4 linked regions of the Homo sapiens genome follow. The protein of the gene in region 2 purifies or fractionates together with the protein of the main gene of each other region. This does not show direct contact. Each region holds a gene or a part of one and is shown on either strand. Other genes may lie near its edges.

Region 1 (4,105 bases), on a different chromosome or scaffold from region 2:
TGGATTGGTATTAAGGAGAATGCATTAAGTGAGCCCAGTGATGTTTTCAGAAGACAGAAGAGGCCCACGCCTGTTGATTTGGTTCCGCTCTTCTCGCTCCCTCCTATGTATACCCTGCCTGTTTCTTTTGGGCCTTCCTCGGGGTATCTTTCCTCCCAAATCACCCCCTCAAGCTACAGTTGTGTGTTATGAGTCACCTTGCCACTCACTCCGAAGCTCTCATATGAAAGCGGAGCAGGAGAGGGAGGAAGGATCTGGGCTTGAGTCCTAATTCCCGTAATAGCCATGTGACTTTGGGCAAGTCACTTAAACTCGCTGAGTCTCAGTTTCTTTATCCAGACAGTGAGGGCAAACAGCATGTCCTTCATATGAGTATTGTGCAGATGACACGAGATCACGGCTGCAGCATAGGCCTGGCACTGACAGGGTGCTCAAGGGATATTCAGGGGGTCAGCAAAACAGCCCCTACTGGGTGAGGGGCCTCTCCCACCCAGTCCATTTATACTCAGTCAGACACCAAGTTTATTTTTAGAAAAACAGAGCAAAGTTTATTGAAATTTCAAGCTACATTTGGAAAATCAAAATCCAAATCCTGGAACCATACATCAGGATAAGGTGTCAAAAAGTGGAAAGTGTTCACTCTCACAAAACCCGCTACAGACAAGCTTTCTGGGCACACCTCCCAGGCTCCATTGGATCAAAGCCATCCCCTTGTTCATCCCTCATCCACAGTAGGACACCATCCTTCTGTTCACTTGAAAGTTTTCCACAATAATTACAAAACAAAACAAAAAACGTTTTCAAATGACACTGTGAAGCCCAAACTGATCTTCTCTCAACCCCATTCTATGTAGTCAGCACCAGTGAATGGTGGGTTTGGCATTCAAAACAGGACTTCACGTTTCAGTGGACAGCTGGGGAAAGGGTTGCAGCAGCAAGGCATCCGTGGCCGCATTCAGAGGCTGGCCCCCCTCCTTGCCTTTACTCTCGAGTCTTACTTAACCTAAAAGACAAACTGGGTCAACTTGGTAAATGAACACAGTCAAAGACTTAGCCATAAGAGGTAAGGGACCAGTCAATACTCCCAAGGCTGGTTAGGCCCTTCAACATGTAGGTGGATGTGTATATGTATACATCGCTACACTAAGATACAGATCTAGCCCTATGGGTATATATACGCATTTATGGCTATATAGAAAAACTATGCCAATACTAACCAAACAGAACTTTGTAAGCGGTCATCCCAAAGCTGTAATCCCACACTGGGCTGTGCACAAAGCCATGCATTATACCATATTAACCAACAGAAGGCTGACTTGGCTCAATCTCTCCCATCTGTGTCCCCTGCCTTCACGAAACAGAGGAGAAGAGAGAGGTTGCCTCTGCTTAAAACACAAGTGGCTTCTTCATAGGAACAGTCGTTGTCAGGTGAAGCTGTTGAAGATGTCCATGGAGATGAGAAACAGACCCCTTAAACTTTCTGGAGCAAACTGGTGTCACACCTCAAACTACCCTTCTCCTTTGCCAGTTGCAGCTAAGTTGCCCAGGCCCTGGGAGCCCCCAGGGCGCAGTAGCATTAGAGGCTCACTGGCTTGGTGTTACTAGGCCCCATGCAACTCAGCCTCCAGAGACCTGCTCTTGTCAGGGGTCTGTCGCTGGAGTGGACCCAGGTGGCCATGTCCTTAGGACATCTCTTGGCACCAGCTGTGCTAGGTGTAAAGTTCTCCTCGTGAGATGATGCTTGGGGAGCCAAAAACAAACTGGAAAGAACTAGGTAAAACAAGTTTAGTGGCTCTGCCCACCCTGAGGACAGAGCCACTTACACCGCAGAACCACCAGGGGCCTCGGGCACTTGTGGGGATTCGGGAGCTGGCTCTTCAGGGCTCAGACAGGACTGGAACTTCTCCAGCTGCTCTGGGCTTGCCAGGGTCTTCAACAGGGTGTTCTCACGCTCTAGCTGGGAGTTCTTCTCCACCAGCTCTCGGATCTGCTCCTTCAGGATCTCCACCTCCTCTCTCACAGCATACATCAGATGATTCTTCACCAGATCCTGCCAATGAGGGAATCATAACAAAGCCATTCCTTAGCCATCGTGGCCCCTCTGCAGCACCTTTGCTCTGTCATTGGTGTGCCTGTGCTGTCCTTAATGCCAGGGCCCTCCAGCCTTCCCTCAGTGAACTGGTCTGGCAAGTCCAATTCCTCGTTCACCTTTCTCTGAAGCACTTAAACCCTCATTCAGGAGAGCTACATGATTTGGCTTATGCTGGAGTTGAGAGCCCAGCTTTGAACTAGATAGGTTCTCCCCTGCAAGTTTCTAATGACTTTCAAAGCTGGCTGCTGAGGGGCCTTTGGGGTGACACTTCTGCTGTTTGCCAGTGGTTTGCTATGTCCCCCTTTTTACATAAGCCCCTACTGCTGCCGATCCAGATCTGGGGGAAGGGTAGACCTGCAATGCATCCCATACTGTTTGTCTGCTGTACAAATCTTAACCAAGAGAATAAAATTGGCTATTTTAGAGTCTCCTCCCCTCCATATGACCCAGCACATTGAATTGCAGCTGTCCTGCAGCCGGCCAGTTAGCACACAGGACATTGGCCTTGGGGAAAGGTACAGAACTGCCGCATCCTCTCTGAATTTGATGACTGCACTGGGGGCAGGGAAGGTGTCCTTAAGCTCCAGGGCACAATTAAGTGGCTCCCAACCGCTGAAGCCCTAACCCTCTGCAGCCATTGTGGCTGCTCCTTGGAGTATGACCTCTACCTGGTAAGGAGAGGGACAGGGGTGGGGTGCTTCGCTTCCTGTTTCCACCCAACTCCTGACCCCAGTCCAGGCTCTGCAGAGGCACTGCAGTGCTGTTGCATCCAATGAGCTCAGCCCCTTGCCAGCTGCACGATGCACACAAATGCAAGAGTCTGAGCTCCCTGCCCAACAACAGGCCCAGGAGAGAGTCAGAGCCTGCGGCAAAGACCTGAGATGGAGGAGGGAGGAAGAAAGGAGGGAGCCCAGGAAGGGAAGACTGGAAATGCCCTAAAAGGTGCCACTCTAATCAGACTCCACCTCCAGTGCGGATAGGAGGCAGGCTGTCGGCTTCCTCAGGGTTTTGGCTAAGGGCTTTTTCACCCATTCCCTCAATCCTGCCCAGAGTTACATAAGCAGCAGCTAAGTCAGGGGATGAGAATGACGCAGTGATGCCACTCACCATGGCCTGTTCGATCTTGTTGTCTATGGCCACCACGCTGGCTCCGGAGGCACTGCCAAGACAAAAAGCAAAGCGACCCATTACCCACTCGGTTCTACTCTTGAGTACATGGCAGTTGTGGCCAAAGTCCTCCATCTGCCTCGGCTCTTCCTCTCTCTCTCCTTCTCGCCTCCCTGGCCCAGAGTTCCGGACAGTTTGTCCCCAGATCCTTCCTTGGCCCCTGCAGGAAGCTGCATCTCCTCATCCAGGCCGGCTCAGCGCTGCTGCCGCCGCCCCGAGTTCCAACCGATCGGAGCTGCTTGCGAGTCCTGGGGCGCGCAGGCCACCGTGGCCTGCTCGGGCAATATGCAAACAATGGGGCTGTGCGACCCGGGGAGTCCCCCACAGCCGGCCTACAAGGTCCCAGGCAAACCTACCCGGCTCTGAAGCTAGCTAGGAATTCCTTCTCGGCTGGTAAGCTTCCGGCCTTCTCCCAAGCGGCGCACGGCGCTCGGCCAGCCCCCTGCCCAGCCCTGTCTGGTCCTGCCCGCCGCCCCTCTGCCTCCGGCTGCCTCTGCGGCTGCAGCAGCTGGTTTTCACGGCGCAGCGGCCGCAGGGACGCTTCGATGACGGATCCCAGAGCGGCGGTGACCCCCCCCTTCCTGCGTCCCCTCCCCCCCGCCCCTTCCCAGGATGCTGCACCGCGGGGAACAGGGACCGGCGGCACACAGCTCGCTCAGAGACCGGGCTCCTAGCCCAGCTCCGGCCGGCGCCCCGGCTCGGGAGGCGCCGGAGCTGGGGCCAGCGGTTACCTGTTGTCCAGCTTAACGGAAACCACATCCCCTCCAAGCAGAGAAGAGAAGAAGGAGATGGAGAAATTGTGCAGCTGGTAGACCGCCACCTCCATGGGGGTCTGATACATTTCGG
Region 2 (5,780 bases):
AAATGCCTCTCACCCTCGGCCTCCTCTGCCTGCACCATGGCCCACTCACGCCTGGACTCTGGCATTTGTTCCTAGCTTCTCTGTTACTGGTCTCACTGCCCCTCCCCTCCTCTCCCCACCTGCTCCCAGCCAGGACTGTCTCTTAACAGTGCTGCCGAGGGAGTATGGAGTGTGAGGGGGCAGCTGAGCCAAGGAAAACGCAGAAACGCTGCAGTTGCCTAGGGGGCCATGATGTGTGGCACAGGGTGGACACTGGGGTGCCCACCAGGCACCAGGATGGTGATGAGTGTGTCCCTGTGGTGGTGCCACAGCTGGCCAGAGTGAGGAGTTTCACTTGGTGATCCAGGTGTAGCTCCTTCCTAGGCTGTTAGAGCCCATGCAGAGAGGGTGAGGCTGGGAACAGATGATCTTTGTCTGTGTCTGGGGCTCTCATTCTGGCTGCTACGTAGATCACCTGGAAGCTTAAAAAATTACCAATGCCAGGGGGCCGGGCGTAGTGGCTCATGCCTGTAATCCCAGCACTTTGGGAGGCCGAGGTGAGTGGATCACGAGGTCAGGAGTTCGAGATCAGCCTGACCAACATGGTGAAACCCCGTCTCTAAAAAAAAATACAAAAATTAGCTGGGTGCAGTGGTGTGCGCCTGTAGTCCTGGCTACTCGGGAGGCTGAGGCAGGAGAATCGTTTGAACCTGAGAAGCAGAGGTTGCAGTGAGCCGAGATCGTGCCACTGCACTCCAGCCTGGGCGACAGAGCGAGACTCAGTCTCAAAAAAAAAAAAAAAAAAAAAAGAAAAGCTACCAGTGCCTTCCTCCACACCATATTCTCATGGAATGGGCCTGGGCTGGTTGCCAAGCTCAGGAAACCCTGGGCTGAGCCTCGCCAACGTGGCAAAACCTCGTCTTTGTACAAAAAATATAAAAATGAGCTGGGCGTGGCGGCTCGTGCCTGTGGTCCCAGCTACTCGGGAGGCTGAGGCTGGAGGATCACTTGAGCCACGCGTGAGTGGAGGTTGCAGTGAGCCAAGATCACACCACTGCACTCCAGTCTGAGTGACAGAGTGAGACTCTGTCTGTCTAAAAAAAAAAAAAAAACAAAAAAAAAAAACCCCAACCTTGGGCTGGAGAGACCAGAGGGCTGGAAACAGCCCAGTGGGACGCCCTGCACTCAAGGTCCAGAAGGAGTTTGAGGCCTTAAGTTTAGTGTAGAGGCTGAAGCACGGACACATCCCACCAGACTTCCTAGTTTCAGATCATTGCTCGGGCCCTGGGACCTCGGGCCTGGTACTTAACCCCCTCTGTGCCTCAGTTGTGAATAAAATAGGGATCCTGCGTAAATGGTGATATTGTCATAAAACCACCTGTAGGGCTATTGTGAGAATTAAGTGATTATATTTGAAAAGCATGTGAAACATCAGCATGGATTAAGCACTTCATAAAGCAGCTATTGTTAGAAATTTTTAGAATTAGGCAGCTGTTCCAACCAAAAAGCTCCAGTGTTGTGGGAGGCCAGGAAGGGGAGAGCTGCACGTGGCTTTCATCAGGACCGGCTGTGGGTGCAGTTGAAAAAGGGGCACAGGCCGGCCCAGTGGTTGTTTTATTTACTTATTTAGAGACAGGGATTTTGCCATATTGCTGAGGCTAGTCTCGAACTTTTGAGCTCAAGTGATCTACCCATCTCAGCCTCCCAAAGTGCTGGGTTACAGGCATGAACCAATGCACCTGGCCCTGGCCCAGTGGTTTTGAAAGGGAGACCACTGCGGTACTTCTAGGGATACATTTCTGAAATGAGGGGCTATTTGGCAGCATAAGAATGGAAGTAGAAGGTCCAGTAAGGGACTTAAAGGGTGATCTGAAGGCATTGAGGGGATGTGAACCTAAGACAAGCCCCTGGGGCCCGAGGGGAAGCGCCTTGGCCTGGAGTGCTACCTTGGGCAGGGCAGGCTTTAGTTGTCCCCAGGAGCGGATGCGATGGGGAGGAGAGTTTGGATGGATGCAGGGGCTTCACAGTCTGTTTCATGTGTCCCCTTGATCTCTTTCAGAGACTGGGGATATTTATATCTGGGGCTGGAATGAATCAGGGCAGCTGGCCCTGCCCACCAGGAACCTGGCAGAGGATGGAGAGACTGTCGCAAGGGAAGGTGAGGGTCATCTCGGCTCCCACAGCCGTCTCCCCAGGATGTGGCTGTCATTCCTAACTCCTGGCTGTATGCTGGCCTCAGAGCTACACTGCTCAGATGGAGCATGTGAGCCCCTTATGGGAGGGAGCATTGGCAAGGCTGATGCCGGTCTTGGCACAACACACTTGTGCAGCAGTGCCAGCCCTGCCTGCAGAATGTAGGGGTTGGGAGCACCAGCTTTGGAGCTAGGCAGTCGTGTACCTCAGAGCTGTTGTGGCAATAAGTGACTGCATGAATAAGATTTAGCTCAGGGCTCAGTTGGTGTTCACATCATTATTATCATTCTGAAGCCACAGAACTGAATGAAGATGGTTCTCAGGTGAAGAGAACGGGTGGGGCTGAGGATGGAGCCCCTGCCCCCTTCATAGCTGTCCAGCCCTTCCCGGCATTACTGGATCTCCCCATGGGCTCAGATGCAGTCAAGGCCAGCTGTGGATCCCGGCACACAGCTGTGGTGACACGTGAGTGGGGCTGGGAGGCACTCTGCTCCACTCGAGCTGGTGCCTACGGAAGGGGGTGTGGTCGACGGAAAAACTTCTGTCTTAAGGCTTCTGTGGCTCATACAGAGCAGCTACCTTGCTCAGTGGATAAGCCCCAACCCCCTTGTTGTTTCACAGTAGTTCCCCAGCCTGTCAGGCCCAGAAGTTTCTTCCTTCTGGTGGGAGGCTGATGCTTTCTGTCCTCCCTGCACGGCCACAGACACATTCCCTGCCCGCCGCCGCCTCTGACAGCAGGGACTGTCCAGTCTGGCATGGAAGACTGCGGCGCTCGGTAGCATGGCACACAGGAAGATCCGCCACTTTTTCCCTCGGGATCCTCTGCCATGCCACGTGTGATCAGCCAGTTGTTAAGAGAATATGTTGTTCCATGCCAGGCAGATCTCATGAGGATTGTAATATGCTAGCTGTGGGCTGTGCCAAGCTGGGCTGGACAGATGCCTTGCCAAAGAACCGTAGTGACAACTATCGATTGTCCTTTTGCTTTCAGGAACAGGGGAGCTCTACACCTGGGGCTGGGGTAAGTAAAAGGATTGTTTTTGTGACCCTGAAACCAAGGAGAAGAAAGACCTGGGAGTACAGGGCAGGTGACAAAGCCAACAAGACTGGAGGAAGCAGGGGCCTCGGCCAGGTCACTGGGAGGAACAGGACTGCTCCCTCCCTGGGGTTGGAACAGACATAGGCGCGCTCAGTCCGAGGCCAGACAGGGGAGACATGGAGAGGATATCGGTACCACCCGCCTACCTCTCTGAAAGACTGTCTTAAGGGAGTATCCAACCAGCACTTACAAAGCAGCTTTTTGTGGATGTGACACTGGGTGGAGAAAAAGATTCGATGGAAGTGTGTGCTCTGAACATCTTAGCTTGGATAGCAGGGAAGTCTGGAGGAGCGTCTTGCCTGGAGTGGCTGGTCGCCACTAGCCTCTTGGGGATCCCCAAGGTTGCCTGGCTCTGGGTCTCTTGGATTCACAGAGCAGTGGGGCATAATCCCAGCACTTCATTTGATAGTCTGGGCCCCTTCCTGGAGGGAAAGCAGCAGCAAGACCCAGTGGAGACGATGGCAAAGGGGCTGATTTCACTTTAGGTAAATATGGACAGCTGGGCCACGAGGACACCACCAGCTTGGATCGGCCTCGCCGTGTGGAATACTTTGTAGATAAGCAACTCCAAGTAAAGGCTGTCACCTGTGGGCCGTGGAACACCTACGTGTATGCTGTGGAGAAAGGGAAGAGCTGACATGTGTACGTATATGTATATGCAACACCTGTGAGACCCCCATTCAGGTCAAGGAAAACCATTGCCTGCACCCCAAGGGCCCCATATTTGCCCCTCCCCATCACAGTCCTGCCCTTCACCCTCAAGCACGGTCCTAAACTTGTCTGCACTTTAGAAACACCTGGAGAGCATTGAAAACTCTGCTGCCTAAGGTCAGCATCAATCAAAACAATGAAATCAATGAAACAATGAAACCAGAGCTTCTAGGTGTGTGGCCTGGATAGTGGTAGATTCAAAGCTCCACCCACCTCATCCCAGGTACATTTGATGTGCAGCTGAGATTGGGGCACATTCCAGGTCATCGTCTTCTGTCAGTCATTTCCCTGCTTTCGTTTGAATTTTACCATTCTTGTATGCAGCCTTATACGACATAGTTGTGTTTGCTTTTGAGTGTTAGATAAATGGAATCCTGTGTATGTGCTTTTGTGTCGTTTTTGTCACTCAGCATTGTATAATCCATCCTTGTTGGGTCCTGGAGTTCATTTTTAATGCTATATGGTGTTCTGTTGTATGAATAATACCTCAAGTGATACAGCCTTGTTGATGGTCATTTTTATTGTTTCTGATTTTGGTCATTCCACATAATTCTTTGTGCAGTCTTCTGCACATGTGCACAAGTTCCTTTGCAGAACATTGAGTTGAATTGCTAAGTCAGGAGATACCTTTAATTTTACTAGATAACTGTTGCCCCCAGCAGGGTGGGGTCTACTGTGGCTAAAATGTCAGGTAGATGCACACTGGTTTTAATTGGCATTTCCCTGGATACTGATGAGGTTGAGTAGCTTTTCATTTGTTTTGGATGGCTGGGCATGGTGGCTCACACCTGTAGTCCCAGCACTTTGGGAGGCTAAGCAGGGAGATTGCTTGAGGCGAAGAGTTCATATGTTTATTGGCCACTTGGAGTTTTTCTGTTGTCAAGTGCCTGTTCAAGTTTTCTGGCCTTTTAAAATGTTCTGTATTTTCCTTAGTGATTTTTCTTTTGGATATTTCAGATACAAGTCTTTTGAGAGTTAGTATTCAGAGTATCTTCTGCTACAATGTAGTTTGTTTCAGTCTCTCTTGGTATTACCAATTTTAATACTTAGGTGATGCTTACTCCATGCCAGGTAAGGCTCAAAGTGCTTTACAAGTATCAACTTATTTTGATAAAATAAGCTTATCAGTAGTTTTCTTTATAGTTAAATTCTATTTGTGCATGTGTGTGTCTGTGGTTTAGCAAATGTTTCCCACCCATGGGGTCTTTTTTATTGTGGTAAAATATACTGAACATAAAATTTATGTTCAATAAAAAACAAAAATTGTTTTTAACCATTTTAAGTACATAGTTCAGTGACATTATATGCATTCACTGTTGTGCAACCGTCACCCCTATGCATTTCCAGAACTTTTTCATCATTCTATGCTGAAACTCTGTGCATTAAACACTTAACTCGTCAGTCTCCCCTTCCCCAGCCCCAGGCAACCACAGTCCTAACCTTCTGTTCCTATGATACTGTAAGTGCCTCATGTAAGTGAAATCCCATAGTATTTGTCTTTTTATGACTGGCTTATCTCACTTAGCAGCATGTCCTCCAAGTTCATCCATGATGTAGCTTATGTATCTAGACTTCCTGCCTTTTAAAGGCTAAGATTCTGTTGTATGTATACACTGCGTTTTATTCATCCGTGCATTGGTGGATATCTGAGTTGTTCACTACAGTCAATAATGTTGCTGGGAACATGGGTGTACAACTCTCTTGAGTCTCTGCTTTCAGTTCTTTTGGATATATACCCAGAGTGGAATTGCTGGATTGTGTGGTAATTCTAAATTTTTTTGAGGAACTGCCCTGTTTC
Region 3 (7,038 bases), on a different chromosome or scaffold from region 2:
GCGAAATCCAGTCAGTCATTTATTTGCTGAATTCCATTTAAGTATGTACATACCAGAGATACCTATAATCATGATAAGGCTTATTACTATTTATAATTTTAAAGAAAAGTTATAAATATATAGAATTACTATAAGCTATAAAAACACCAAGTGAAATTACATCACAACTTTTTAAAAAAATGTGTTAAAATCTTGACTAATTAGTAAAATTGATATAAAGTATCAGCTAATGAAAAGTTACATGAATAAATTCTAACAGTTTACTTCAGCCAGACATTTAAAACTGAGTTTAAAAATGTACCAACCAGATGCTTGTTATATGTATTACACAGTCTACCAATTCCCTAAAAACATTCACTACAAGGTCTGAAAACTTTAAAATCTTTTCTTAAATGACATAATGTAGATGGATGTACAATTTCAGTAGCCATTAAGGGGGTTAGCTATACAATGAGGCTACTGAAAGATGATATACTATGTTCCTGTATTTAGTGATTTTGAAAGATATCTTAAGTATATTAAGTGGAAAACAAGAATAATGAAGTAATTATATAATATAACCCTACTTTTAAAATTATATATACATATGTATATACTAGATGTTAAATCATCAATGGGTAGTGAGATTATGTGATTAATATTTTCTTATAATTTTCTAGGCCAGGTGTGATAGCTCACACACACCTATAATCTCAGCACTTTGGGAGGTTAAGGAAGGAGAATTGCTTGAAACCAGGAGTTCTAGATAAGCCTGGGCAACAAAGTGAGACCCCGTCCCTACAAAAAATATAAAAATTAACTGGGCGTGGTGGTGCATGCCTGTGGCTCCAGCTTCTTGGGAGGTTGAAGCAAGAGGATTGCTTAAACCTAGGAGTTCAAGGCTGCAGTGAGTTATGATCTTGCCACTGTACTCCAGCCTGGACCACAGAGTGAGACCCTCTCTTTAAAAAATGAATAAATAAATATAAAAGTTCCTATATTGTCAAAGTTTTACTTGCAGTCAGTAGAGGGGGTAAGGAGGTTATTTCTATTTTGGGGAAAATAATTTTGCTTAGTTATCTAAAATAAGTAACAATCTCAGGACTAAAAATATAAATACTTCACATTTTAAATCCTCTTAACACATAACTTTTTTTTTTTTTTTGAGATGGAGTTTTATCACCCAGGCCGGAGTGCAGTGGCATGATCTCAGCTCACTGTAACCTCTGCCTCTCGGGTTCAAGTGATTCTCCTGCCTCAGCCTCCCAAGTAGCTGAGATTACAGGTGCTCACCACCACGCCCAGCTAATTTTTGTATTTTTAGTAGAGAAAGGGTTTCACCACATTGGCCAGGCTGGTCTTGAACTCCTGACCTCAGGTGATCCACCCACCTCAGCCTCCCAAAGTTACAGGCGTGAGCCACCGCACCCAGCCAACATGTCACTTATTAAAAATGATCAAAGAGGAAAGAATTTTTGCAATATGAGGAACATTCATATTGGTAGCTAACAAGGAAATGCGCTTGTAAGCTTCTGGGTAGTGAACTGGATAGATATTATCAGATGTGGAACCAAACTCGGTTCTTGTTTTCATGCCAGAGAGAAAAACAAAATAAATCAAAGCAAGCATCTATTGTTTGCTAGAAGTCTAATTTATAAGGAAATAAATATTTGGTTATTAATTTGAAATTCTGAGGTTTAGGGAGCTGCCCCATAAACAAACTCAGATTTTAGCTCTTGCTAAGAATTCCTATCAGTGTATTTGGCTATGAATTTGAATATATTAACTAGTTGTACTCCAGACCAACTCTACAGGGATTATCCAGTTGTTATTCCACGTGTAGACACATAGAAATTCTTTTTCTTATTTGTTTCTGAAAATTACACTCTCAAAACTGGGTCATTCTAGTGTAATCACAGTGCCATATAAGGGGAAGCGTGTAATTAGTGCACATAACGCCTTTATCAGAATCCCTAATATTAATGAGCCCTGAACTGAGAATTATCTGTAGGATGCCAGAGCCCTTAGCCAGTAACCAAGATACAATATAATTTTAAAATCTTTACTTTCACTACTAGAGGTAATGGTTATGATAATTTTTCAAACTGGGCTTTCTTTCTGTGCTGAAATCTGTTTCCACAGCCCTAAAAATCTGAAGTTTTCCTCTTCTTTTCTAGGAAACCTCAAAGGTAGATCTCCTCACCATTACAAGAACAATTATATTTATAATTCAAGCTGAGTTGTGACTCCACTTTGCCCTACATGGGGTTTAAAGATGGTAAAACTGAACTCCATTCTCATTTGAAAGTACCTGTGAGTAAACATTTTTTCCCACAGCACAGCACTGGCCATTGCTAACTGACTCCCTGCCAGCTTCTATAACAATGGATTTTGGACTCTTCTAATTTTTAAAATTTAGGTCCTAGAATATACTTATCATTTTAATTCAACATGTAAGAAATCAAATGGATTTCGAAGACTCAGAAGTCATTGTTTCTTCAGTGTTCAAACCCAATGCCCAGACTTACACTCAGGTGACATGAGTGTGATCAGCCACGTGTGGGAACTAAAACAGCCTCTTCCCAAGTAGAGGTTTGGAGAGATTATGATGGAGTCAATAATGACTCTCACATACCCTCTGGGCATTCACAAACAGCTTGTGAATGATCCTGCCAGCATGTCCTCTTCCTGCACCGGTGACTAACACTTCAGGCTGCTCCAGCAGGCAACTCACAAACCTAGGAGACAGAGACAGGCAATGAAAGGGTGGAAAGTGAGCTGTCCAGGCCACTGGGCGTCCATCCTCCCACAGGAGTTTTGTGGACAAATCCTCAAGCTGATACTGGCTAAACCCAACAAGGTTGGAGTGAAATTTTACAGCAAGATAAGATTGACATTTGGAATTATTATCGACTTAACTGACAATCTTCCTGCTTTTTCACCTGTGCTCATAAAAAATGTTTAAAGCCTATCTCTGTCAAAGTGTAAGAAAAAATATTCAGTCTATTTTTTTCAGACTAGAAGCTTAGAAAATGCTACAGTTAATAAAAGATGAAAAAAAAATTGTATAATATAAACCAAGTTATATTTATCCAATAAAAGCAATGATCCATATTTGTTTTTGTTTTTTTTAAGGGGTATGTGTCTGTGTGTGCACGCACACGTGCACATATGCTTAAAATACTTGTGTTGGGCAAAGTCGCAATTGTAAACTGTGCCATTAGATGCTGGAAACACTGAACTTCCAAGTATGTCACAGATAACGTATGGTGGAACTAACAGAGTTGAAGGCACAAAGCCACCAAACCTGCACCACCTGCTCACTAATTCATACTCTACTATTTTAGAAACGAGTCCCTTGATTAGAGCTTATTCTTCTCATTTAAAAGGAAGACATTTTCAAGAGCAAAGCAGTGTGGGAGAAAACTTCACCTAACAAAAGACATAAAATTCAAACACAAACTTGTTAAAAGACAGCAAATGCCTTGCCATACAATATTAATTATTTAGCATCAATAATGCCATTTATTATGGAAAGGCTAATGAAAATTTTTAAATGATGACAAATTTAAGCCACTGAACAAGCTAATTTGTGAACACTTTATCACACATTAAAACAATATTGTCCTTCCAAATAACATGGGCAAAAAATGAACAGGGCCTCACACTGATCTAAGCTCCATTGGTAATGGTGCCGAGTCTCATAAAGAGAATGCCCCAATCATTTGCTTCATCTGAGAAAAGCCATCTGGTCAATCTTTCAAAACATAATCGCAAGGCACATAGGATGTGCACCTTTGCTATCACAAATCTTGTTTAAAATAAACAACTAGGAACAGTAAGCAGAAATGGTTTCAGCACCTGCACCCTGTGGTCAAGGAATAGTAACAGCTGAAAACAAAGTTTTGGGGCAGGGTGAGCAACACAGTTAACAGCTCCTCCACAAGAAATTCCAGACACCACATCTCCAAGAGCAAACCAAGGAATCCCTAGAAAAGGAGGCTCTGGGAGACTGTTTCTAAAAGTGGGAAGAATGGAAACACCTGGTAGAGACTCAGAAATACGGGAGAGGTCAAATGCTATGATAATTATTTCTGTCTCTAGACAATGCTTGTTTCAAATAATATATGATTACCACAAAAGAGTCTTAATATCCTATTACAATTTTTCTTAAGAGAGTGGTGGCTTTTCCTACTGCAGACAAAACTGAATTAGCCAAATAGCAATTACCTTTCAAGATCTTCCTTTTCCTCCTCCTGTTCACATTTCTCAGTTCCAAACTTGGCTTTTAGTGACCGAGCTCTGGCAATGAGAGCTTCCACATTAGTAATCTGGTGAATGATTTCCTGGCGGTAGAAAAGGAAGAGGCATACATTGCGAGATGGCAAAAAAGCAAAGCCCTTTGAAAACGCATCTTAAAAATTATTTTTGCCAACTGAGGAGAACACTTGGCAAGATTCTGACACTACATCAAACTTACTTCCAATTTCTTGTCTTCTGGATTGGGGAAGTGCAAAACTTTACTGGAATGGGATATTATCTGCTTTATGATCTTCTTAACTGAAGAAATGTTTTCGAGACTTTCTATTTTAGAAAAGATTGAAGCCAGCATTAAATAAATTAAGCAAAATATACTTTCACTTTGGAAATGACTAATGACTAGTTAAATATGACATTTACCTTCTTCCTTTACCTTGAGTACAGCTGCATGAATCACACAAGGTAACAGGTGCCGAGCAAGGTCTGCAGGTTTCTGGATTGCCAGATAGTGCAGCACCTGAAGGAGGTGCAGCGCACACAAATGATCAGCGCAGGTGTCAAAGGATGAAGCAGCCACTTACAGAAGTGCAAATCCTCAGCCACTCATCTTAATCCTTAACAAGACAGCACTCCAGATAGGCAGCCACGACCCCAAAGGTGAGGATAATGTTACTGAAAGCACCTAAGAACTTCAATCTTTAATAATTATAAATATTCTATTTTTTTCTGCTTTCTTATGTAATACACACAAATAAGGAAAATACAAAGAAAATAAAAACTACCGACTGATTACAATACCAAGAGAAAACAACCATTGACAGTGGAGCATTTTCATTTTAAGACGCAGAATACACGTACTAAGGGCACTAATATTAAATATGTAAAATACTGCCTTTTAACCTGCTTTTCTCACTTAATATTTCTAAACATTGTTAGTGACTTCCCACACATTTTTTGGTTTTAGTTGTTTTGGTTTATTTTTTTTCCAATTCTTATTATAAGAATACAGAGAAGTATGTACAAAACATGGACCCTACCTTTAGGCTCCTTATTCAACAGTAAAGATAAAAGAAGTATAACCCTATAAATATGTACAATTCTTTTACATCAATAAAAATTTTAAGAAGTATAATCTCATAATGTGAGTCTGACTGATAAATGCTCATGGATTTCAAAATTTTAAAAAAAATACAGGTGATGCAGAAATTTTCCTGAAATCCTACTTCCCCAAAACCACATTTTCGTGTTTATCCTCTCAAACTACTTGTATGTCCATTTAAACACAAAAATGTAGATGCATATGTAATTTCTTAACAAAAATTAATAACTTACATACTGTTTTATTATTTGCTTTATTTAATGACTTGTGGTGGACTTTTTTTTGGCTTAGAGAGTTTTGTCTGATTTGAAACTTTTTTTAAATTAAGAAATATACATACTAGAGTATTAGAAATAGTTTAAAGAAAACACCAGCTTAGGAAACAGAATGTTACCAGGCTTTTCCAAGTCCTCCTGTGTACCCTCCATCCCCAGAATTAACTACAAATCATTCTTTTGCTTTTCTTTATGGTTTTTTTCACATATGTAGCCTTAAATAATATATTGTTTACTTTTGTCTAGTTTTAACCTTTATATTAATGGAGTGTTTCTGTTTATAGCCCTCAGTGACTTGCTTTTTTTCATTCAGTATTTTGATATTCGTATACCATTCCAATATGCTATAGTTTACTCATTTTCACTGCTGTATTAAAATGTTCCTACACTAATAGTAGTGGATAGCTCCTCAGTTTTTGGCTATTACAAATGATGCTCCTATTACATTATTGCACATATTTCCTGGTGCAAATGGGACATGTACAGCAATTACTTTAGGATATATACCTAACAATTGAACTAGGAAATGTACAACATAATTATCCTACAAAGTGTTTCAACAGATTTACATTCTTATCTAGAGTAATGAGTTCCCTCTGTTGTACATCCTTGCTAATACCCACCTTTCTGAATTTTGTTTTCCCCTGATTCACAGAAAAACAAATTTGCAGGAATAACGTGAAATATGTGATTCCCCTTTACCTGGATTCACGTATGACCTGTCTCCCTCCTCTGTTCTGGATCCCTTGCATCTTTCTCTGCTTTCATGTGTGTACATACTATAGACATAAACTTGTTTCGAATAATTTCAGAATAAGTCGCACACTCATGTCCCTTATCCCAAAATATCTGTATTTCCTAAAATTAAAAATATTTTATTATATAATCAAAATGCAAATGATTCTGATTATATACAATAAATTTAACACTGATAAAAATAATTGTAATCTAACCTACTATCTTTATTGCAGTTTTGTCAACTGATCCCATATGTGTCTTTTTTTTTTTTTTTTTTTTTTTTTTGAGACAGGGTCTTTCTCTGTTGGCCCAGACTGGAGTGCAGTGGTGCGATCTTGGCTCCCCACAACCTCCGCCTCCCAGGCTCAAGCGATTCTCCTGCCTCAGCCTCCTGAGTAGCTAAGACTACAGGCACATGGCCACTACTGCCCGGCCAATTTTTGTATTTTTAGTAAAGACGGAGTTTCACTATGTTGGCCAGGCTGGTCTCGAACTCCTGACCTCAAATTATCCACCTACCTCAACCTCCCAAAGTGCTGAGATTACAGGCATGAGCCACCGCGCCCGGCCGCAAAATGTGTCTTTTATGACCCTTTCCCTCAACCACTACAAGTCTTGGTAAGGATCATCCATTGCCTTTAGTTATCATAGCTCTTTAATCTCAACTAATCTGCAACAGCTTTTCAC
Region 4 (7,038 bases), on a different chromosome or scaffold from region 2:
ACAAGCTATGGAAAAGTAGCCTACATTTTGGTGCCCTGCAAAAAAGTGACTAAGTAGCTCAAGCAAAAAATTATTCTTTTAATACAGCTTTTACCAAAACAGTTTTAATACATGAGTGGCTACAATTTTATTGTGTACACAATGTGCTTATAGTCACATGTGGCCCAATGGATCCAAATGCCTCCTCTGGCTCATGAAATCCCATGTACTTCACAATCTAGCCTAATCGTGTATATGCATAAAAGCCACTGGTATACTTTTTACAGACATCTTTGTATAATAGTCCAGAAAAAAAAAATCAGTGGTACTTAAGAATGTTTAGACAATTTGACATCTACGTTTGCTTTCTTTTCTTTTCAGTAGTCCTTCTGATGATTGGGGGCCTTTATCCCATAGGTTTATACTGTTAAAACAGTACATAAAATTACATTTAGCTTTGCTTCGGACCGGCGCGGGGGCTCACGCCTGTAATTCAAGCACTTCGGGAGGCCAAGGCGGGTAGATCATCTGAGGTCAGGAGTTTGAGACCAGCCTGGCCAATGTGGTGAAACCCTGTCTCTACTAAAAATACAAAAATTAGCTGGGCAGGGTGGCACACACCTGTAATCCCAGCTACTTGGGAGGCTGAGGCAGGAGAACTACTTGAACCTGAGAGGTGGAGGTTGCAGTGAGCTGAGATCGCACCACTGCATTCCAGCCTGGGCAACAGAGCCAGACTCCGTCTCAAAAAAAAAAAAAAAAATCATATTTAGCTTTGCCTAGAGTAATAGATAAAAAAGGGTAAATCACACATTTTCAAGAAGCTTGAGAGGGAAAAAATTGCAGCATCGTGGTTTTAAAAAACTTATTAAGCAAGAAAATCAGTGAAATCCAGACTTTAATCTATTTTTTGCTTGTTTGTCTGTTTTGAGACAGGGTCTTGCTCCGTCACCCAGGCTGGAGTGCAGTGGTGCTATCAAGGCTCACTGCAACCTCCACCTCCTGGGCCCAGGTCATCCTCCCACCTCAGCCTCCCAAGTAGCTGGGACTACAGGCATGTGCCACCACACCCGGTTAATTTATTTTGTTTTTTTTTTTTGGTAGAGACAGGGTTTCGCCATGTTGCCCAGGCTGGTCTTGAACTCCTGGGCTCAAGCAATCCATCTGCCTCAGCCTCCTAAAGTGTTGGGATTACAGGCGTGAGCCACCATGCCCAACCTATTTTTTTTTTTTAATGGGCATTGTGAATGAAAATATGTAATGTCAACCTTTACTTTATGGTATCTTAGGTTTGTCTTCTTCCCCTTCATAGTTTTCCCCTTTGAGGATAACCCTTCAAGCTCAAAAGGGCACAAAAGCTAAAACGTTATTCACGTACAAAATACCAAGTATATAGCTGTTCTGCAGTTTGATACAGAACAAAAGAAAATAACTTTTCTAATTAAATCCCTCATTCTGTACTTAGGCCAGACTCCATCCCCACTACAGTTTTACTTGTATTAACAGGTTAAGAGCAATCTAGGAACATTTGGCAAACAAGTACATTTTTTACATGGAAAAAACTCAATCAACATCACCATTCTCTGGTACAAGAAATACAAAACACATTTCCTTTAAAAAATCCTCCCAGTGCTGAAGTATCTTCTAAGCTTCCCAGAGTATGTCCTAAGCTTTATAAATAATAAATCTTTCAGACATGTCAGTATGAAAATGAGACTGGTCTCAAAAAAAACCCATCAGAATATTCAGAGAAGTAGGCCTCATAAACTTTAGAGCTCTAATAAGTCAGAAACAGGAAACGTTTATTTAAATAGTGTAGTCTTAATTTCTTTAATATAAAACCCCCCCAAATCTGATGAAAACAAAGTTTTATATACCATATAAACAAGATTTGTCAGATTTGAAAGTGAAAGTTAAAGTAATTTACAGTTAGCTTTTAACCCTCTCGGGACATTTAGATACATCCTGATAATCCATCTTGTATTAGTGTGTGTCAATTTTACAATACACTGGGGAAAACTCAGCTATTGTATTTAACGGTACAGTTTCATTTATCAAGTGTTTCCCATTAATTCCATTATTAGTGACAGCTAACAAGTGACCCCATCAAATGAAGTGAATGACATTAGACTGTGGCAGAGTAAACCACATCTGGATTGCTTTCTATAATTCACCAGTTTGCAGGAAGTAAACATTCTTTGATTTGTTCATAATATACTGAAGTTACCTATAACACTGGTGCAGTAACACAGCTAGTTCCTCTGTATTGTTATGGTAGAACGGATTTTGTAATATAAAGTTAACAGGAAAAAATGCTCACACATTATGTGGTGAAACTTATCTCACAAAAGAGCATTAAATAAAAGGATAGAGGGAAAATAAACCATGCAGAAGAGACGGCTTCCCCATCTCCACCTGTTTCCCATGGGCTCACTCATTGCCATACATCACTTGCCACACTATCAAGTGACTCCTTTCTGCTTTGGTGACAGAAGGTTCAAGTGGAAGATCCTCTCCAAGAAGTTCTGATTCTCCACCTTCATCACCTAGTGAATGATAAGAAGACTCAAGTTAGGCTGAACACATAAAATATAGAATGATGTGAGTCAGATGTAATGCTCGTGGTTAGTCCATGAACAAGATGCCCAAAACTTGTCTGACTTTCACTGGAGAGTAAATAGTAGAAGAAATACTAAGAGTCAGAATCCTCACCCATATTCACCCAAGCCACTGCTTGACTTCAGAAAAGGTTAATTCATTTTTCAGACTGTATTTATAAAATCCAGTTCACTATACTACGTTAAAAAGCCACCCCAACATGTCTGCATACCGATGGTCCAGACATGGGAAGCTAAGAAGGCAATTCTGTGTTCATCCAAAATGAAGAGTCTACTGTCACTTATTTTAAACTAAGAACTGAGAATAGTGTTATAAAATGCGTGAGCACAGGTACAGAGCAAACTAACTAAACCCAAATAACTCACAATTATCAATGACAGGTGTAATGTTCTCCAATTGAAGATAATTGACACAAGCATATGGAAATTAAAATAATTAGCCTGCAGCACTGCAGATGGCAGATTCACCAGCTACTGGGTTTTTCTTCCAATGATTTTCAAGTTTAGGATAGGTTACAAATTAACAGTGTATAATGGAAAAGGAGAAACAAAGAGGTTGGGGTAGCAGCCAAGATACAGGTTCTTCTGCATCACGGCTAAGTGAATGTGATCCATGGTGTCCTGATCAGACACTGGCTTCCAAGGCCCAGTCTGGGGTACACCACACTCCTCTCCATAAGACCCAGTGCAGGGCATACCATAATTCTCGATACAAGCTTGCATCAATTGTATCTGTTGTCACAGAGCAGGGTTATTTTGGCACAACCCAGTGAAAAGTTGTCTAGTGGGATGGATTCTTCAGCAGAATCCTAAAAACATACACACCACAGGACCTAAAGATATATTCCACTGATCTAACAGAATTTTGTAATGTGCCCCATGTGAATTTCAGCTGGACAAAAGAAAATATTGATACTGTTGACTAGAAACAACAGAAGAGAAAAAACCCTAAATATCTGCATTTTTCTCTGCAGGCCAAACTTTCCCTTACCCAGCCCTGTAATGGCCTTTTCACAGCAATATCAAACTAGAGAGAGGAGAACACTCAGTTCAAACTCCCATCTCTGAACTGAAACATACCCAGGTGGTTAGAAGGTAAAAAAATTAAGTTTGGCTCTTAAATTTTAAAAAATTTCAATGAAAAAAATTAACTGGCTGAGACAAAAGGCTGTCGCCATTTCTCTTCTGAGTTGTTCTGAAGATTTTACTTGTAAGAAAATTATCCTGTCTGCTAGGGTCTCTACAGCCTAAGTTTTAAGTTTAAATCATTAAAAATATGGGACTTTAGAATCAATTTCTCACTGTTAAAATATTACAGGAAATGAAAAAGGAAATGGACCCCCAAAAAAGATCAAATTTGATTTTTTACAACAGTATATTCACTATTAAAATTAGCCTATGCTAAAGACAAGTCTGTTTTTCAGGCTGGAAATAACTAGAGATACTGCCAAACCTGGTTAAGCAATTTTTGTTCTATTTTCAGGATCCACAATGGAAGGAATTTTTAGTGGAAATGGAAAAACCACATAGAGATTTTATTAACAAACTCCTCAGTACGGTTCCAACTGACATACTGCACTCCAACACAAAGTTACAAAAATCACCCCAGCCAAGTGGAGTCCCTAACAACTCCTCTCATAAAAGGGAATTCAACAATAGTCAATTATTCAAAACACTTTGAAATGACTCCATTCCTGCTGACATCCCTGGAATCAATTTCTAAAGTTCACACTAACAGCCTTCCCCTCTTAAAAGTGTCAACAAACTTTTTGCATCAGATATTGGTGACACTAATCACATTTGTCACATTGTCATTTAAATGACCCTAATTTTTTTTTATTCCTTTACAGAATTCATATCTAAAGTATTTGTTACTGATCTACAACACTATTATATTCTCTCAAACTGCCTACTGCCTTATGTCTGGGAACTTTTTGAAGCACTGAGATTTTAAGCGAGTCCAAGGGATCAGTTTATTTATAGCAAATAAGCTGGGTGCGGTGCCTCATGCCTGTAATCCCAGCACTTTGGGAGGCTGAGGCAGGTGGACTGTTTGAGGCCAGGAGTTCGAGACCAGCCTGGCCAACATGGTGAAACCCCGTCTCTACTAAAAATACAAAAATTAACCAGGCGTGGTGGCACATGCCTGAAATCCCAGCTACTCGGGAGGCTGAGGCATGAGAATTGCTTGAAACCGGGAGGTGGAGGTTGCAGTGAGCCAAGATTGTGCCACTGCACTCCAGCCTGGGTGACAGAGTGTGAGACTCTGTCTCAAAAAAGAAAAATTATAGCAAATAAATAAACATATTTGTACAGTGTCTTACAATTTACAAAGCACTACTCTTTCACGAGCATCAGTTCTCCATGTTTTCTTTGTACCTCTCTGGCCATTCCTTCTCAGATCCCTCCATAAGCTCTAATGATCTTTAAATGGAGTATGAATTCAGGGTTCTATCCTGGAACCTTTCCTTTTTCTTTCTTTTCTTTTTTTGAGATGGAGTCTCACTCTGTCACCCAGGCTGGAGTGCAGTGGTGTGATCTCGGCTCACTGCAACCTCCACCTCCCGGGTTCAAGTGATTCTCCTGCCTCAGCCTCCTGAATAGCTGGGATTACAGGTACACGGCATCACGCTCAGCTAATTTTTGTATTTTTATTAGAGACTGGGTTTAGCCACTGGAACCTTTTCTTTTAGCTCCTTGGGCGAACTCACCAACCCTCATGGCTTTTAGTACCACTCCATGCTGACAGCCCCCAAATCCCTCCCTCCTAAGATAGAGGACCTGTATATTCAGAAGCCCAGTGGAAATTTCCCACCTAAATCACCACTATGCTCTTCAAGATCAACATGATCAGCACTGGACTCCTCTTTCCGTCCCTCCAGACCTGCTTCTCCTGTTGACAGTCCTGAGCTCTATGGCCCATTCTCTCCTTCCCCACATTCTCATCATGCTTCTTATCTGTTCACACTGTTACTACCTTTCTTGGGCATTCACTTGTTCCCAACTCATTTCCCTAGGTCTAGTCTTGAACCTCCAGTCCATCCTTCACACAACTCTAATCACATTGCTCCTATAGTTCTCTTTTGCTTGAAAGATAAAGTACAATCTTCTTAATCTGGTATGTAAAGGCCTCCCATACTCCAGTCCCTCCCTCCCTTTTGACAACAAATTCATACTTTCTTCTACTCCACACTCTTGTCATTTTAAAATAGTTTTTCTTCCATTAAAATGGTTTCATATCTCTAAACCTTTGGCCAAGCTATTCTCTTACCTCGGAGTGCCAACCCCTGGTCCTCCCCACCCCATTCCCCAACCTGACCCTTTGTGCTAAGACTATGCAGTGCTGAGTCACCTCAAGCATCATTTCTTGACTTCCTTCTCTCCCTACCCTTGGAAAGAACTGACTACTCACTACCAGAGCATCAGTAACATTTTAATTTATTAACATGTCTCTATCTCTGCACTGTTCTATAATCTATTAGACGAAGGCTTTGTCTGATTTGTTTCTGTATCTCCAGTTTAAGAATGACAGGTACACAGTAGGTGCTCAATTAATGTTTGTTAGGTGAGAAAATGAACAAATGAAGTTGTTTAAGAAATATTTTTATTTCTCCATTTTGACAGAAAACCGAGGCTCTAAGAGGTTGAATGACTTGTCCAAGGCCTTCTGACCCTAAATCCTATGCTTTTCACATAAAACTTCACATTGACCACATCCTGCTATTTCTAATGCTCCTTTCAAACAAATACATTTTGGTATGAAAAGAAATACCAAGGGCCGGGTGCGGTGGCTCGGGCTTGTAATCCCAGCTGGAAGGCCGAGGCAGGCGGATCACTTGAGGTCAGGAGTTTGAGAATAGCCTGGCCAACATGGTGAAACCTTGTCTCTACTGAAAATACAGAAACTAGCCAGATGTGGTGGTGCATGTCTGTAATTCTAGCTACCTGGGGGGCTGAAGCAGGAGAATCACTTGAACCTGGAGGCAGAGATTGCAGTGAGCTGAGATCATGCCACTGCACTCCAGCCTGGGTGACAGAGTGAGACGTCATCTCAAAAAAAAAAAAAAAAGAAAGAAATACCAAAAAGAAAAAAACAAAAAACAAAAACCCACAAAATCCTTTCGTGTGTAAAGAGCTCAAAGAGAACCTCTTATAAATCATTATCAGAGTGGTTTCTTATTTACTTTGGGACAAAACCCAAGTCATAGCACACAGTGCAAACTGAGCACCCAGAACCAATGACATACCCATTCGGAAGTCGATGTAGCCCTCTCCTCCACTGATGACAAGCATAGACTTCAAGGGCGTCTGACTACCAGGCTCCTGTGCAGATGGCCCTGCTTTGTCACCCGTCAGATCCGTGCCACTACTGCTACTTTGTGGGCTGATGACTTGACCTGTTTTATACAGAAACAAAAGTGAATATTACTTATCACAGAAG

The links.
Region 1: the proteins of RCCD1 (region 2) and TSC22D3 purify together in Homo sapiens (affinity purification with mass spectrometry; 2 studies listed by BioGRID and IntAct, with this or other methods). This does not show direct contact.
Region 3: the proteins of RCCD1 (region 2) and RAB3GAP1 purify together in Homo sapiens (affinity purification with mass spectrometry; 2 studies listed by BioGRID and IntAct, with this or other methods). This does not show direct contact.
Region 4: the proteins of RCCD1 (region 2) and SPAG9 purify together in Homo sapiens (affinity purification with mass spectrometry; 4 studies listed by BioGRID and IntAct, with this or other methods). This does not show direct contact.

The regions. Positions count from the first base shown.
Region 1 is NC_000023.11:107,712,700-107,716,804, forward strand, and holds the end of TSC22D3 (TSC22 domain family protein 3), read right to left. Parts: coding exon of another isoform or gene 3,991-4,105; intron 3,810-3,990; exon of another isoform or gene 3,616-3,809; intron 3,252-3,615; coding exon 3,200-3,251; intron 2,051-3,199; coding exon 1,820-2,050; 3' UTR 522-1,819; downstream 1-521. UniProt on the Homo sapiens protein: Protects T-cells from IL2 deprivation-induced apoptosis through the inhibition of FOXO3A transcriptional activity that leads to the down-regulation of the pro-apoptotic factor BCL2L11.
Region 2 is NC_000015.10:90,957,862-90,963,641, forward strand, and holds the end of RCCD1 (RCC1 domain-containing protein 1), read left to right. Parts: intron 1-2,038; coding exon 2,039-2,137; intron 2,138-2,466; coding exon 2,467-2,637; intron 2,638-3,163; coding exon 3,164-3,193; intron 3,194-3,756; coding exon 3,757-3,908; 3' UTR 3,909-5,264; downstream 5,265-5,780. UniProt on the Homo sapiens protein: Plays a role in transcriptional repression of satellite repeats, possibly by regulating H3K36 methylation levels in centromeric regions together with KDM8.
Region 3 is NC_000002.12:135,160,273-135,167,310, reverse strand, and holds part of RAB3GAP1 (rab3 GTPase-activating protein catalytic subunit), read right to left. Parts: intron 4,757-7,038; coding exon 4,660-4,756; intron 4,564-4,659; coding exon 4,460-4,563; intron 4,326-4,459; coding exon 4,210-4,325; intron 2,718-4,209; coding exon 2,615-2,717; intron 1-2,614. UniProt on the Homo sapiens protein: Catalytic subunit of the Rab3 GTPase-activating (Rab3GAP) complex composed of RAB3GAP1 and RAB3GAP2, which has GTPase-activating protein (GAP) activity towards various Rab3 subfamily members (RAB3A, RAB3B, RAB3C and RAB3D), RAB5A and RAB43, and guanine nucleotide exchange factor (GEF) activity towards RAB18.
Region 4 is NC_000017.11:50,963,863-50,970,900, forward strand, and holds part of SPAG9 (C-Jun-amino-terminal kinase-interacting protein 4), read right to left. Parts: intron 6,995-7,038; coding exon 6,845-6,994; intron 2,526-6,844; coding exon 2,410-2,525; 3' UTR 1-2,409. UniProt on the Homo sapiens protein: The JNK-interacting protein (JIP) group of scaffold proteins selectively mediates JNK signaling by aggregating specific components of the MAPK cascade to form a functional JNK signaling module.